Linked DNA regions of Homo sapiens: region 1 is linked to region 2. A link means that fine-mapping ties the variant in region 2 to the expression of a gene that starts in the linked region. Tissue or cell type: lung. Region 2 holds a variant in brackets; the other region holds the start of a gene. All regions are shown on one strand. Distances are between the middles of the regions.

What was found. PIP is the estimated chance that this variant, and not a neighbour inherited with it, causes the effect.
Region 1: it holds the start of SYT16, and the variant in region 2 is the best candidate, but not a certain one, in a credible set for the expression of SYT16 in lung (TOPMed, PIP 0.72).

Annotation. Positions count from the first base shown.
Region 1 is chr14:61,808,765-61,816,949 of GRCh38, forward strand. It overlaps SYT16 (synaptotagmin 16), which reads left to right and starts at 3,939. Exons shown (of 8, transcript NM_001367656.1): 1 at 3,939-4,046.
Region 2 is chr14:61,933,245-61,941,429 of GRCh38, forward strand. All of the region lies in intron 1 of SYT16 (synaptotagmin 16), which reads left to right. Among named protein-coding and RNA genes, the nearest start is that of SYT16, 120 kb to the left of the region's middle. The variant C/T (reference allele first, on the strand shown) is at 3,540.

The sequences.
Region 1 (8,185 bases), 120 kb before region 2:
GGCAAGAGTCTGCCGAGGGTATACGAAGACGATGGCAGACACTGACGGTGGGCCAGGCAGTCATTCCCACCCCCTTCTTCCTTGTTGGCAGAATCCACTTTGTGCCATAAACGCTGAAAATAACAGATGCTTGCGTTCCCAGCCTCCAGTGCCACCAGAATGGTGGAGAAGGCCTTTGAGGGCTTTTACAAAGATTTCTTTCTCTGATAAAAAGAAAGAGACGAGGCTGGGCGCGGTGGCTCACGCCTGTAACCCCAGCACTTTGGGAGGCTGAGGTGGGTGGATTACTTGAGGTCAGGAGATTGAGACCGTCCTGGCCAACATGGTGAAACCCTGTCTCTACTAAAAATACAAAAATTAGCTGGGCATGGTGGTGGAAGCCTGTAATCCCAGCTACTCGGGAGGCTGAGGCAGGAGAATCACTTAAACCCGGGAGGCTGAGGTTACAGTGAGCCAAGATCACACCACTGCACTCCAGCCTGGGAGACAGAGTGAGACTCTGTCTCAAATTAAAAAAAAAAAGAAAAAAGAAAAAAAAAGAGTGAGAATGACAAGGAGGAATATCCCCCTCTCCTACCAGATTTGGGAGATTTTGTGCTGCAGCAGCCTTACTGCCGAGGAGGAAAGTGGGGAGTCCAAGTTCTTATGGGCGTTGTGGAGATGCTAAATCAACCACGGGTGGATCCCTTGATATATAACAAGGTGTGTTATTGTTTAAGCCACCTTATGCAGTTACATGGGGCTGAAAACATCCAATACCCCTTCTTAGAAAAGCATCCCATTGTCATGCATTGGCTGGGAGGTGGTAGAACTTCCAGATAGGCTGGGGAAATTGAGCCATAAGGGGACCTTTGTCTCATGTCACATTAAATGTCTTGCTTGGTGGTCCATCATGCAGAGCTCCCCTCCACCACATAGTAAGGGAATGGTAAGAAAGAAATGGTTGTTTGGCTTGTTAGAAAAGGCCTGAGACTCCACAGATCTCACTGTTTTCTTAGAATGGAATGGGTGAGTAGCCAAACTTGTCCTCTCCAGAGCAACAGGAAAGTCAAGGAGAAAAAGTCAGACCTGAAGGGGCTTTGGTGTGGAGGAGAAGACAGAGTGGTGGCTGCCACCCACACTCATGGCTGTGGAGGTCTGACGAGCTCTGAGGTCCAGACAGAAGAGGTACCTCCCAAAAGGGACAGATGGGGCCTGATACCTCTTACCATCCCTGATGCTACCCAACCTGTCCTTCCAAACATGGATGCAACCCCAAGAAAAAATGGGGAAGGAAAACTCTGAATTGCCTGAGAAAAGCCTGAATCGATGTTTACCTTGAACTGAGTAAAATCAAACTCCCTAACAATGGGTCTAATAGGGGCTTGGGCCAGAAAGTTAATTTGGTTATAGAAAAGTGAAAATTTATTCTTTTATATATTAAATACTTGAATATGTGTACAGAAATCTATCTTAAAGCAAAACAAAACAAAAAACCCATCTTATCTTGATCCTGCTCTCTTCCAAAGCTCTCCATCCTCTTTCATTCCTTCACCATTAAACTTTTTAAGAGAATTATCTATGCTTGGGGCCTCCGCCTCTATGAAATCTACTTGTTCATTAACCCCTTCTCATCTGACATCTGGTGCTATGCAAACCTGCTATCCAACAGGTCCATTATTCAGAAATCATTTATTGAACATATCCTTTGAATTGTCATTTTTTTTCCTTTTTCTCATTTGGAAAAGCCAGTTTGATTAATGCATAAGGAGCCTCACACATGTTCCACTGACCCTTCAATTGAATCCAAGCCCAACCCACCCTTTTTGCCCTCACACCAGCTTAACCTCCTGGTTTGTGAGCTCCAAACAGGTTGAAGACTCCAGGGTCATGTTTAATTCTTTTTTCCTTTAACCTCCTGGTTTGTGAGCTCCAAACAGGTTAAAGACTCCAGGGTCATGTTTAATTCTTTTTTCCTTTTCCCCATCCAACCCACTTCCAGAGTGTTGGCTTTTGGGTCTACTGCAGATGGTTGTTGTGAAAGACAAATGAACCAGGTCTCTGTGGTTCTTAACTAGAAGTCTGCTTCAGAATCACCTGTGTTAAAACAAATAAAGGCTAAACACAATTTAAAAAAAGGACACCCCTAAGTGCTACTCTAGGTGGACTGAATCAGAATGTGGAGCCTGATCAGAATATTCTCTCCCTCATCGTGCTCTGTGAACTGACCAGAGAGGACTCCTGTGTTGTTCTCTGGCAGTTTTCTGTCTGCCTAGCCACGTGGGAGCTAGTGGATAGGCAGACGGGAGCCTTGCTCCTGAGTCTTCTCAGCATCCAGCCCGGGGCTGATTGGGTTGAATGTGCATCTCCAAATGCATCAAATGGATTGTATCTTTGTATTTTTATTTTATTTTATTTTTAAGACAGGGTCTCATTCTGTCACCCAGGCTGGAGTGCAGTAGTATGATCTCAGCTCACTGCGGCCTTCACCTCCCAGCCTCAAGTGATCTTCCCCCTCAGCCTACTGAGTAGCTGGGACCACAGGCATGCACCACCAGCCTGGCTAATTTTTGTTTTATTTTTTCTAGAGACAGGGTCTCACTATGTTGCCCAGGCTTGTCTCAAACTCTTGGGCTCAAGCTATCCACCTGCCTAGACCTCTCAAAGTGCTAGGATTACAGGCGTGAACCCGGCCCTTTTTTCTTCTTTTAAAAACTAGGGACAGGGTCTTGCTCTTTCACCCAGGCTGGAGTGCAGTGGTGCAATCATAGTTTACTGCAGACTTGAACTCCCGGGCTAAAGTGATTCTCCTACTTTGGCCTCCCAAAGTGTTGGGATTACAGGCTTAAGCCACCATGCCTGGGCGAAATGTATTGTATCTTTAAGAAGTATCTAGCCTGCCATGTAATTTAGGGGATGTGTTTGAGCCATTTGATCCTTCACATGATGGATCTGGTGGTGGAGACGGGGGTTTCTAATGTACAACTGTCCCCTAATATATTAGGTTGGTGCAAAAGTAATGGCAGAATAATCCAATAATCCATCAGAAATTGGTTTTTGGACTTCAAGAAGATGTATACAACATCATTCTGAACTGACAGCCTCAGTTCAGAGCCCTCCTGAACCACAATGGCCTGTGAGGCACAAGACTCCGGCTCACTCATTCGGCCTGGTCCACTTACTTACTCTAGCGTCCATCCCTAGTCAGTGGCAGGGCTGTAGTTGGCTATGATCATGTATCAGTTGCTCATCCAGTGGACGTCCAATCAGTTAGTTGGCCATTCATTCATTCATTCATGCAGGCATCCAGTTATAAAGACATCCATTCACCCACTCAACAGAAATCTGCTGAGAGCCTACTACGTGCTGGGAACTATTTTCACATCGGAGACAAAACAGAGGGTGACATGAAGAGCACGGCCCACTTGGAGCCTACGGAGATGGCGTTGAGCGGTTTCGCAGGAGAGCTCCTGCCCCGGAGGATTAATGCCCAGCACCTGGCTCATCCTCCCCACACCCCTAGCTCTTCTCCCGCTTTGCTCCTTCCAGCTGGGGCTGAGCATGGGGTCCCAACCCCGCTGGTGAGAAGCTCGAGGTAGGGATGAAGCGGAGAATGGAAAAGGTGACTCGAAAACAAGGATATAGCGGGAACGTTGTAGGAAAGGTGGCGTGGAGAGGCGACCCTAGCGTGGCCGGGAGCGTGTTTCCAAGTTGCGGCGAGCATCCTCTTTGGGGGAGGGGCGGGAAAGGAAAGGAGGGGAGGGGGACGGACGCGGCGAGGCGAGGAGGGGGAGATCCAGCCTCTAGGCGCCGCAGCTCGGCCGTTCTGCCCGGGAGGCTGGGCTCTCAGGACGCCGGCGGCGGCCGCAGGGCTGGCGGCTGCTGGGCGCGGGGCGGCGCGGGGCGGCGCGGCGCGGCGGGGGCGCGCGGCAGGAGGGGCTGTGCGCGGCGCGGCCCCCGAGCGCACCGGGCCTGCCGAGGAGCGCGCGCCCGGCCGGGCTCGGCGCCGGTTTCCCGAACCTGGGCGGCCGTCGGGCAGCCCCCTCGTCCGACCATGGCGACTGACAGTGAGTGCGCTCCGGCCGCGGAGGCCAGGGGTGGGGGGAGGCCGCGGTGCCCAGGGTGGGAAGTTCGATTTCAGACGCTGCCTTTGTGCTGGCTCGCGGCAGCAGCGGCCGGGTCCCTCTCCGCTCCTCACCCTTGGCTGCCTGGCGGGGCTTGAAAGGGCAGGTGGCCCTGGCGGCGCGCCCCGCGAGGGATGTGGCAGAAGGGCGTGCGCCTGGCGCCGAGGCGGAGGGACCCTCGATGCCGTGTGGCAGCGGGGCCTGCCATCGCAGCCCTTCGCGGGCACTGCCCCCAGGCCCAGAGCCAGCCTTCAGCGAGCCGGGCAAACGAAGGCACTGCGCGTTTTTGGCGCTGTGAGTTCAAGGTTCGCCTCGAGTTCTGGGTCGGGTTTGTGCGTCTGCCTTTTGGGGATCAGGGTGGCTTGCATGGCTCGGCTGCCCGGTGGCCCACGGGCTGTATTCGCAGCGGGCAGCACAAGGCCGGCTGGAGACCGCATCTGGTTACCATGGTCAGTGGGTGGGAGGAGTGCCTGGAGACATCAGGTTGAAACTCTGAATGGAAGCGTTGGAAGGCGCTGGGTTGGCCTGCTTTTGGCATCTTGGCACCGCTGCTCTTATGGCTCAGTGCCTTTGGAAATTGGAATCCCGTCTGTGAAAACTGGTTAAGTTAGTTGCGTTTGAAGCCAGATACGTATTAGTGAAGCTTCAAAGGGAGTTCAGAGTAAAACCAAGTCACACCTGCGTACCTAGCATCCAAAGTCCCTAGCACAGGTGTGGCGCATGTTAGGGACTTCATTAGATGAGTGAATGGGGCTGGATGTGCTGGCTCAGGCCTGTAATCCCAGCACTTTGGGAGGCCGAGGCGGGAGGATCACTTGAGCCCAGGAGTGCGAGGCTGCTGTGAGCTATGACCCTGCCATTGCACTCCAGTCTGGGCCACAGAGGAAAAAAACAAAAATCAAATGGTGTGCTGGCTACAGAGGCCCTTTGGAAGGTATTTTTTTTTTTTTTTTTTTGAGAGGTGAGGAGGAAAAGAGATGGGAAAATGAGATGTCAAAATTTCTGCAATAATTTATTATTTTTCTTGTAAACAATCATCCCAGCCAAGAACACAGCTTTAGGATAGTGTGGAGAGCTTGAGTTTTTGTAGTCAAACAGACCTGTATTTTATCTCTCTAGAATTCCCTAGCAGTGGGACCATGGCACTGTCCTCAGTTTCTCTAAATTAGGACAAGGCTGTCATTCATAGCTCTTACAAGCGATGGGCACACAGGTGGCCTTCAGTAAATGGTGGTTGTCCTCTCCCTGCTGTTTTGCCATCATCTGATATGTGTGGGGATACCAACATGCTTTCCTCCTTTTTAAAGAGAAAAATGTTGATCAGGTGTTTCCAGTAAAATCAGCTAATTTGGGCCAAATTTCCCTTTCCTCAGCTCTGTTCATTTATACAAAGTGTGATTCCATTCGTGTGTGTGTGTGTTTAGAAAAAAAATTATGGTTGAAGCTTTACTTAACAAAGTAAGACTCAACAAAGAAGGAGATCATGAGATTTGGCCTTATTGTGTTATTAATGAAAAACAAAGGCAAAGGGGTTCAAAGTATCTACCAGCAACTGTGCATCACACACATGCAGTGAGACACTGTTCTGCTATTTACTTTCTTATGTTTTGGTTAAGATGATACATTTAGTACCCTAGAAAAATAAACTGAGATGCTTCCATACCAATTTATTTAGATTGATGTTTCTTCTACTTCCTTATATGGTATACTCAACTGTACTGAAGAATCAAACTTTTGCCCATTGATTTTGTTTATGAAAAAATTATGATGATATCTGACCATCTCAGCTCTTGACCAGTTTTTTAGGCTCAATCTTATGTTCTTTCTTAGCTGAGATGGAGCTAGAAATCTGAAAGGTTTCCAAACTGTGGAGAAACATTATTTTGTCTTTTTTCTTATTCAAAACTAATGTGAGAGGCTTACTATGTGTCCCTACTATCAAAAGGGAGAGAAGGAAAGTATTCTCAGTCAGTGTCTTGAAAAATTTCCCGCAAAGCTTGACCATGTTTGCAGCCCGAAGTCCTACAACCTTCTGTTAGCATGGAGATGATTTTGAAAACGTAGAGCCCAGGGCTTCTCCCAGATACAGAATTCTTTAGTTAGCTCTGGTTCTTAGTCCTAGTTGCATATTAGAATTACTCCAGAGAGCTTTAAAAAAGACCCTGACATCAGTATTTTTAAAAAGGAGGTCTTAAACTTTAACATGCATCAGAGTTACTCAGAGGACTTATTCAAACAGATCGCTGGACTTCACTCCCAGAGTTCCTGATTCAGTAAGTCTGGGGTGCATCCTGAGAATTCACATTTCTAACAAGTTCCAGTGATACAGGAACTACTGTTCCTCTGTCCTTCTCCTTACCTCTGCAGGTGAGGAAGTGACAGGTGAGAGGGAGGTAGGAACAGAGTGATGATCACTTCTTTAGCAGTCCTGTCTTGTCACCATGCAGTGACTACATGACCTCGATAAGATAAATCAAACCTGGGCACAATATTGCCTTAGGGCTATAGCTGAGTGCTTCCCTCAACCCCCATTTTTCTCCCCCACAAAATTTCCCCTTGAGGGAAAAATTGGTTCTAAAACCAGGCGAAATCCAAGTATTCTATTCCAGTCATTTCTGGAGAGAATCCAGAAAGACCTTCTATATGAATGTAGCATGTAAATTATATAAAATATGGAGATATTTTTAAAATATTTGCCTGGAAACTTATAATGTTCACAAAAAAGAACATAGCCAATAGAAAATGTTCTTATATCTAGATAGCATGCTGTCTAAGGGCAGATTCCAGAGGAGAAAAGGGGAACTCGAGAGCTTCAACTAGGTTTTCAGTAAGTTATCATGAAATCGTGAGGAACTTTGAGATCCCAGTCTGTTATATAAAGTGGTGGTACTTGGGTACTGAACTATTTCATGATTTCCTCAGTGACAAGTATTCCAGATAATATTTTGTTTCCAGAACACAAAAGTAGTGAAGCGCTATTTTATTTTTTTATTCCATTTATGGCATATGTTGCATTATTAGTACTTCCTTTTATAGGTGTTTAGTTTTGAAGTCACTTTAATCTGTTTGTAAGAATAATTTCTTAGGATCAGCCAGGCATGTTTAGGTAATGTTGGAAACATCTAACTCTATTATACCCCAGAAATCTTGGGCAGTTTTCAGGTGGATGTGTCTTTGGGGCTGTGACAGATGAACATTTGGTATTGTAAAAGGAGACATCTGTCCCCGTTTGGGTGCTCCTGGTTTCCTGGCTGATCTTGTGTCATTTTTGCCTGTTGCATCCCAGGCTGATGTTCCTGCCCTGCAGTCAGTCTCCACCAGCAGCCACTTTTTCCCTCCTTCTTTCTTGTTGGCAACCTGCAGTTTCCTTTCTCCCCATCCTGTCTACTCCATCAGCAATTTCCACTCAGTGCTCAGTCCTGGAAGAGGGTGGGTGGGGGTCGGGGATCAAATATAAGCCCTCAACAAGTCCACGTTAGAAACTAGTGCTAAACAGTGACTTGAGATATTCAGGATTTCAGATGCCTAGACTTTAAAAGAAAATTGCTTCACTTTGGCTGAAAATGGATGGAAAATCTTGAGTTAAATGATTTCTAACCCTAGTCATTATTAAAAAGTTTACAAATGATGCCAACTAAAAAATATAGACAAAGAGAGTTAGAAAATTACTACTTTGAAACCATCATAGCAATAATTAATTCAAGCAAGATTCATCCATGGATGCTGAACTGTTATGTGAAAATTTTAAGAGGAACAGAATTATTTACATTGTTAAAGAATTTCCCCCAGGACAACCCATTTCTTTAGGATCCCTCTCTGCTGCAGAGAGCTCTTTCTTTCTTAGTTAAGAACTTCCACTCTTGGCCGGGCGCGGTGGCTCACGCCTGTAATCCCAGCACTTTGGGAGGCCGAGGCGGACGGATCACGAGGTCAGGAGATGAAGACCATCCTGGCTAACATGGTGAAACCCCGTCTCCACTAAAAATACAAAAAATTAGCCGGGCGTGGTGGCGGGCGCTTGTAGTCCCATCTACTCGGGAGGCTGAGGCAGGAGAATGGCGTGAACCCGGAAGGTGGAGCTT
Region 2 (8,185 bases):
AGACAGACACAAAGCTCCTTTCCCATTGTCTGTTTTCACAAAGATTCTGGCTATAGAAAGAAGGTATCTGAATCTGAAGCAAGAGGTCTCACTTAGTGTCCCTAAAATTACAAAATAAAATCAGTGAAAGTTGGAATAATCAAACCTGACTCTTTCACCCTGTTTTCCCAGCCTCTACCCTATACTCATCCCTGAATGTAGGACTGTATAGTACAGTTATGTGATTTTTCTCTCAAAAGTCCAAGGGTGAAGAGCTGTTCTAATCAATCCATGGACTCTGAAACAAAAGAGATGCCAGGAGAAACAAAACAAAACTGTCCTTTTCAGAGTTGAGCTGTTCTGGTCACCATTTACCTCCTCTTGCCCTAGTCTCTGGGAGAGTGTGCACTCACAATGTGACCCCTTCCCAGCTAAAGGGCTAGTTGTGTGCAGAGGCCAGCACTGTTCCTGTTAGTATGATGGCTCAGGGTAGATAGTGAGGGTTAGGTTATCAGACACAGTGGAGTACTGCCTAGCTGGCAAAGCGTTTGGACATTTACAAAATAAGCTATTTTCTATTTAAGAAAAAAACAGTCTATACTAGAAGAATAGAAAATAAGGAGGATATTTAAAAATACTTATATTCTATTTCCCTAGTCTCCAAATTAGCATTTTAATACAAATTGTGTGTATGTGTATATATACATATATATACACACGTACACATGCATATTTGTGTGTATATATGAGAGTGTGTGTATATATGTATGTATACAAGTACATAGTCATATATATATATGCACACATACATTCATGTATTACTATTGTTTTTGTGGAAATAAAGATTTTGCTGCATATACTTTTTCTGTATAAACTTTTCATTCAACCAGCTTATGAGATATTTCTATGCTTATAACATTCATGATTGTATAAACTTATTTTGTTTGCTTTTTAAATCACATAGATATACTATCATTTGATTCAACCTTTCTTTCATTTTGACATTTAGTTGATTTCTATTTTTCTATTTCTTCAAATCATTCTCTGCTTACATTTTTTTGTACCTATATGTAAATGGCTTAAAAAGTACATGGCAAGTCAACAAGTCCCCATTAAATGTTAATCATCTCAAGTTTCTTTTTTTGTTGTTAAAGTGGTGATTCAGCCTGAGAAAACCTCTGTATGACAAAAAATGTAGAATGCTTTATGAATGTGTAAATCCTAAACTGACATGTAATACCGGAATTGAGGCACTGTTATGCAAAGGAAACTCTGGGAAGAAATGATGTGGTTTGGGACTACACTTGTGGGTAGCACGTGCTTAGATGTATTATTATAGCCAGTGCTATAAGGAGATGACTAAGTTATTTCACCACATTGAGATTTTATTGTGGTGACCCAAAAGCGTTGGATGCAGCATAGTGGGCAGAGATTGGTCTGGACTGAGGCAAGCTCCATTCTAGTTCTGCCTCTCACTAGCTTGTGGAACCTGGGACAAATCCTGTTTCCTTACCTGCAAAGTGATAGAATTGTTCTAGTTGACCTCTGAGGTTCCTTTCAGATCTAAAATCCCATTATTTGAAGATGACTCTTCTCTGTTTAATTCATTTGTAACCCATAGTGAAAACAAAGTGGACTTGCAATACACTTCCCAGAGTTTAAAACTTTGTGGCTTGGGTACATTATGGCAATTTTATTATCGTGAACTCAGTACAGTTTTGCGAAAGAGTATTTTCATTCCTTCTTCCTTTTTATTTTCAAAATTTATTTATTGCATAAATTTAAGGTGTGCAACATGATATTTTGATATGTATGGGAAAATGATTACCACAGGCAAGCAAATTAATATATCCATCACCTTCTACAGTTATTTCTTTTTGCCCATTCCTTTTTCCCCTCTAATTTTACTTGGGGGCGGCACTACTTTCCATTGCAGGCAGTTTGGGTGGGGCTGTCAATCAGATGGCCTTGCTCCTCCAGCCAAGAGGTCAGCATGACCTTTCAATAGGGGAACTCAAGGCCCTGCGGTGATTGAAGCTGATTCACGCCGACAGTGGCTCCCATTAATTTCTCCTACGCAGATGCCCACACTGTCCTCATTCTGGCCCTTTTCATGTCTTATTTGTTCCCTTTTCTTTCTATCTGGTGGTCTTTGCATATTTTTTCATTATAGTTTGGTTGCATTTTTTAGCCAGAGTCATTCTGCTGCCTGCAGAAGAAAAGTCCTAAGCCTTGGTCGCTGGTACTGGCCTAGCCTGGCTCTTCACCTAACTGGGGCTTTGTAACCAATGGGCACCTTGGTCATTCTCTAAGCCTGTGTGTCCTGATCTATACCAGTGAGGGTAAGAAAACCGATCTAGTTGTTGGGGTGGTGAAACGGACCAAGCACAGAGTCGACACGTGGCAGTTTCCCTTCAACCTAGAGTTTCTCTGGGAAAGTGTTTGGCCTGTGAATTTAGGACCTTCACCTGGATGTGTCCCATGTGGGCTCTAAGTCGGTAGAGTTAGAAGGATGTTTCTGGTAGTAATTATGGTTAGTTTGTTCTTGATCTTGCTTTGCATCGTGGTAAGCACATAGTAGGTTCTTTTGAATGTATTTTAGAAATCATTAAATAAGAACATATGAAAACATTTTGTTATGTGTTTTAATAGTACATTTTTTCATAATCATCAATGTTTTAATACATTGAGTAAAGGGCGCAAGTATTCTGACCCTTCAGCCAGGGTTTGTAAATGTTTTAGCTCTGAGAAACTTGTGTCTAACTATATTGCTTTAATGGAATTTCAGTTGTATAGCACTGCTTTAATTATTGGAATCTTCTTTAGAAAAAAAACCTCTGAGATTTGAGATAAGTTTACATATTATTATATGAATCACAATTTGCTTTAAGAGCTTATCTAAATCCCATCTGTTTGATTGGAAAAAGGAACTCGGAATGAATCCATCTGATTTTCAGTTTTCTTCCTTGGAGAGAATCGTGATTGAGAGTCAGAGTGGGGTTATGCGCTGCCTCTTTTTGATGGTTTCTAGAGGAAGTTTTAGGGTTTCCATAGCAATGCATGAGGAGTCATCATTTTCTGCCATGATTTCCCAGCAAAGAAAAAAGTACTGATAACTATGGTTTAGTAGAAATGAAAAAGTTGATACTAGATCATTTTAAATTTGTTCCGGCTGCTGGGGGATAGATAGGGCAGAGCATCATTCTATCAGCTGGAAGTGACTGACTCCCAGTGCCACAAGGCGGCTAATGAGTTCACTAATCATCAGTGGTAACGTCACAGAAATACATTTCTTATTTTGATTAGGAATAACACAGGGAAGAGGTCCTGCCATAATTGTCCCGAGATTCCATAGAGAATTTGCATTTTAGAATGTAATGATGTTGCTGCACCTCCTCTATCACTTTTTCTCTCTTCATTTTCCACATCCCCCGGACTTTCTCTCTGCTCCCTGTGCCACCTGTCTGTCCCCTCCTCCGTTCTATGTCTGCCTCTATAGCCATGTTCCTTTACATGATTGCCTTAGCTCTTTGACGCTCCCAGAGAGAGGGTCACAAGCC[C/T]AGGTACCATCCTCGGCAACTTTTCATCACCCTCAGGCTGCTGGGCCTGACATGTTCCCTTCCTTGAACAATTCAACCTGTTTTCAGGTTTTCTAAAAATGGCAGCATTTATACCTGATGTCACAAGGGGTACCCGTGCATCCTTGTTTTGTGAAATCTGAACAAATTGTTCTCATTGGTGAATTTACAAGGACTAAAAATCCTCATCAGCTGTCCAGCATAACCATGAACTTGTCTTACAGACAGCAAAAGCCAGCAAAAAAGACTGTGCCAGGAACGGTGCTATCACTTGCTTCAGTGGAAGCTGGGCTGGCTGGAGCAGGGATTTCCCCGTGGATGGTGATGTCTCTGTGATTCTATTTCTAAGAGCTTCAAAGTTTACATTTGCTTTAAACTGATTTTGCTTTGAAGCAGTAGTTCATCATGATTTTTAAAGTTGGTTATCATTTGTAATTGCTGGAGCAAGGCCAGTGTTAATGGCAACCATGCCTTGCAGTTTGAAATGTTTTCTCTCCTTGTTTAACAGAGTTAATTGGTTTAGTGAGTTCTTGAAAAGAAAAGGCGATCCTTTGCCCTGGGGGAAGACTAACTTCCTTACTTTGCCAATTATGAGGGGAAGTCCTTTGAAAGTAAGGTACATAGGAGCTGTAAGACTTACTTAGCTTTTAGATTTTATTTATCAGTTTCCAACTCCGACCTGTGCTCAATCTCCACTGCTCCTCTGCCTTTTTGGTTAAAATTACTGAAGCGTTTGCTGACAAAGTCTCTAATTATCTCAGGACCAGTCAGGGTAATTTCTTGATGTACAGCCACTGTGGATGGGCAGGAAGCCCCACTTGCCTTTCCATGGAGATCTGGAGAGTGTTGGGACAATTTTCAATAAGAGATTATTGTTGTTTCAGTGGCAGAAATGGAAGTCAGCTTTAGGCACCAGGCTTCCCAGATATGATGTGGCATTTGGCTTTGTTGGGTTAGAGAACTAGAGGAAAGAGGAAGGATGGAAACTTGTCCCTAACTTGGCAGTGGGAAACCCCAGGGACTCCCATGTTTATGGTCAGGCTTATAATTGATCCATGTGTCTATGTGTCAATCACACATATTGACAGAATACCCGCTTGTACAAGTATAAGGGTCAAAATGGCATATGAGTGTCCTGCCTTTGAGGAGTTTACAGTCCATTGAGGAATACCCATTTTAACTTTCATCTGAGGCCTCTTCTGTTGCCCCAACCTCCTACCCCGCAACACACACACACACACACACACACACACACACAGAGTGTTTCAGACAGGAAACTTGGAGGGATGAGACCACATATCTAGACTATAAGTTTAATTTTTCAATTAATTACCGAAGGATAAAGAACTTTTTAAGAAATGAGATACGCAAACAGGGTGGGGATTGCTACAGGCTCTGCTTTCACACGTTTTCCTCCTTATCTGCTTCCCTGGTGTTTATTGAATGATACTGTACCCAAAACCCTGTGATAGACACTGTATGAGCTGGGTGGGGAGGATACAAGGAATATTAGACGTGGGCCTTCAAGGGCTTCACAAAGTAGAAAACAGCTGCCCAGCTTGCCAGATACGAGATGTTTGCCAGGTAAGTAGTGTGGGAGTGCCATACAGTTCACCTTCAGGGTTGGCTGGGTGGGAGGGGACTTGACTAGGAAGGCATTCTTGGGGAGGGGATTGGATTAAAGGTCCAGAGGCCTAGAAATGAATAAATAATGCTCTCTCCAGGGCAATGCGCTGAGGTTGTTAACTCTGTGGAACTACAAGGCTTCCTTTGGGGGCACAGTGGGATAAACCTGGAGTTGACCTTAAGAGACAAGCAAAAGGATTTAAGGGGTATCCTTAAGAGACAAGCAAAGGAATTTGGGCTTTATATTGTAGCTAATGAGAAACCATTAACACCAGCTAAGGGGGACTGACATGGTTAAAAAACAGGTGAAGATGAATTTTGTTTGATGCTAAGAAGGATGAATTTAGGGGACAGAGGGAGTGTGGAAACAGACTCTAAAGGGATTTTGTGGTAATTCCTAAAGGATATAAAAAGGACAGACATGAGGCTGGGTGCGGTGGCTCACGCCTGTAATTCCAGCACTTTGGGAGGCCAAGGCGGGCGGATCACTTAAGGTCAGGAGCCCGAGACCAGCCTGGCCAGCATGGTGAAACCTCGTCTCTACTAAAAATACAAAAATTAGCTGGGCATGGTGGCGGGTGCCTATAATCCCAGCTACTTGGGAGGCTGAGGCAGGAGAATTGCTTGAACCCAGTAGGCAGAGGTTGTAGTGAGCTGAGATCGTGCCACTGCACTCCAGCCTGGGCAACAGAGTGAGACTTGGTCTCAAATAAAAACAAAAACAAAAAAACCAAAAAAGGACATGAACCAGGGCATTATGTGTCTGGGAACTTTGCTATAGAAGTCTGGAGGACCTTTAATTATTCTCTCCTCCTGTTCCTGATGGATGCATAATCCCCCCAAAGCACTAACTGGCAGTCTGTTTTAGGGCCAGGAAGCACATGGTTGTTCAGTGAGACAGCTAGCAAATAATCCTCCTGTGCACACCTACAGTTTACGAAAGACACTGTATTAGTCCACTAGTGCTGCTTTCACAAATGCCACCAACTGCAAAGCTTCAACAGCAGAGATCTATTTTCTCACAGTCCTGGAGGACAGAAGTCTGAGATCAAGGTGTCCGCATGATTGGATCCATTCTGAGGCTTCTTTGCTTGGGCTCTACATGGCCATCTCCTTCTGTCTTCATACGATCTTTCCTTCACGTGTGTACATGCCTGTGGCCAGATTTCCTCTTTTTATGAGGATGCCAGTCGTGTTGGATCTGGGCCCACTTTTAAGCCCTCATTTTATCTTCTCTCTAAAGACCTTATCTCCAAATACAGTGACCTTCTGAGGTACTAGGGGTTAGGATTTCAATCTGTGAATTTTATGGGAGACACAGTTCAGTCCATCACAGTGTCTAAGGGGGAAGAAAAAGGACGAATGGAAGGACAGAGGCCAAGCACCTCCCCTGACCTCTCATCCCAGGCCCTCACTGTACACCTGAGTCCTATCTATGGTGATAAAATGGGTCACCTCCACAGAGAAAGTTCCCTGAGCCAGCTTCCTGTCATTCTTTTCTAGGAGAATTTAGGCTGATGTCATCTGGGGGCTTTTCAACTCCCAATCTTAGAATTAGCAGCCTTTCTCCTTTTTTTTCAAAAAAACTCTGGCAATGCTCGTTTCTTACCATATTTATTGCAGTCAACTGTTTATGTGCATGATAATTTTTATAATGATGTGAGGAAATCTCTGAAGATGAACAGAATATACAGAATAAACAGATGCATTAAGTTGCAACTACATAGTTTTCATTATTGTCCTTTTCACGGGGTTAGCACATATTTTTGAATTCTTTAACCTCAGCTTTTGAGGTGACATTCCTTTTATTTCTATTTTTTTTTTTCTGTTTCCATCTACTGGCTTAGGCTGATGCTTAAAGGTCCTCATGTTATTGCTTCCAAATTCTTGTTCCTCTCTCTTGATTTGAGACTAAATGGCTCTCCTCACGGCCACTGAATCCCTATTGACAGTGTCTGTTGCATTCTAGCTTCAAATAAACAACAACAAAAAAATCCCCTAAAAACCTATGATAAGGCAGAATAGCAGAGTGATTAAAATAGGGTCTTGAGCCAGACTGCCAGGGTAAAATTCTGGCTCTGACACAGCATTCTGCAACTTTGGATAAGTCATTCTCTAAGCCTCAGTATATTTCTCATCTGTTAAGTGATAATAATAATAATTTCAATGTCTTAGGACCCCTGTCAGATTTAAATGAGCATAAAGTGCCTGGCACATAGTAAATGCCATGTAAGTATAAAGTATAATAATTATTATTCTGCTTGTCTTTGTTCTGAGTAGCTTCCCTGGAGATTCAGATCTTGCTTGGCCCCTTCTCCATTTCCCTCCCTCTCAGGTTTTCCTTTTGTCACCCACATAGTGGTGGGGCAGGCTTCCCTGGAATGCTCTTCAGACCGGCTGTTCCTAGATCAGACTGAGAACCGGAATGGTTGACAAGGTCTGTATGTTTTGCTTGCCTGGGGGCAGATCTGCTTGAATAATCACAGATAGGCTTTGCCTTCCCTTCCAGACTCCACTGAAATGAAAGGCTTCCTGGGCCTTAGGGGAGACTGTGACATTTGCCCCTTTCCCGTGCAGAAGGACCACTTATTTGGAAGCAAGAGTTACAATCTAAGGGAAAGTTTGGACGGGCATGTTACAATGGGGAGGGGTAGTGCTCCTTTTGTTATGTTAGCTTGGGATCTATAGACAAACACATGCCTATCAGTGTTGAAGGTGAGGTTCTCTGGCTCAGTAGGGTTAATTGCACAAACGCCAGCCTCTTTCCCTGTGCCAGTGGCCTGCCTTGGGTCAGCCGCTGCCAGGACTTTACCAGTCACTAGCTATCCCTTAGTGATGCCTCGTTAAATGCTTCATCATCCAAGGACTCCAAGGGCTCAGATTCACAGCTCTACCATTCAGGCTTCAGCTCATATATAAACCAGTAATAATTCAGATCTACAACAGTATCCTCACTCTTTGGGCTATTCTTTGCCTTGGGGAAGGGTGACAGTTTCAGTTGT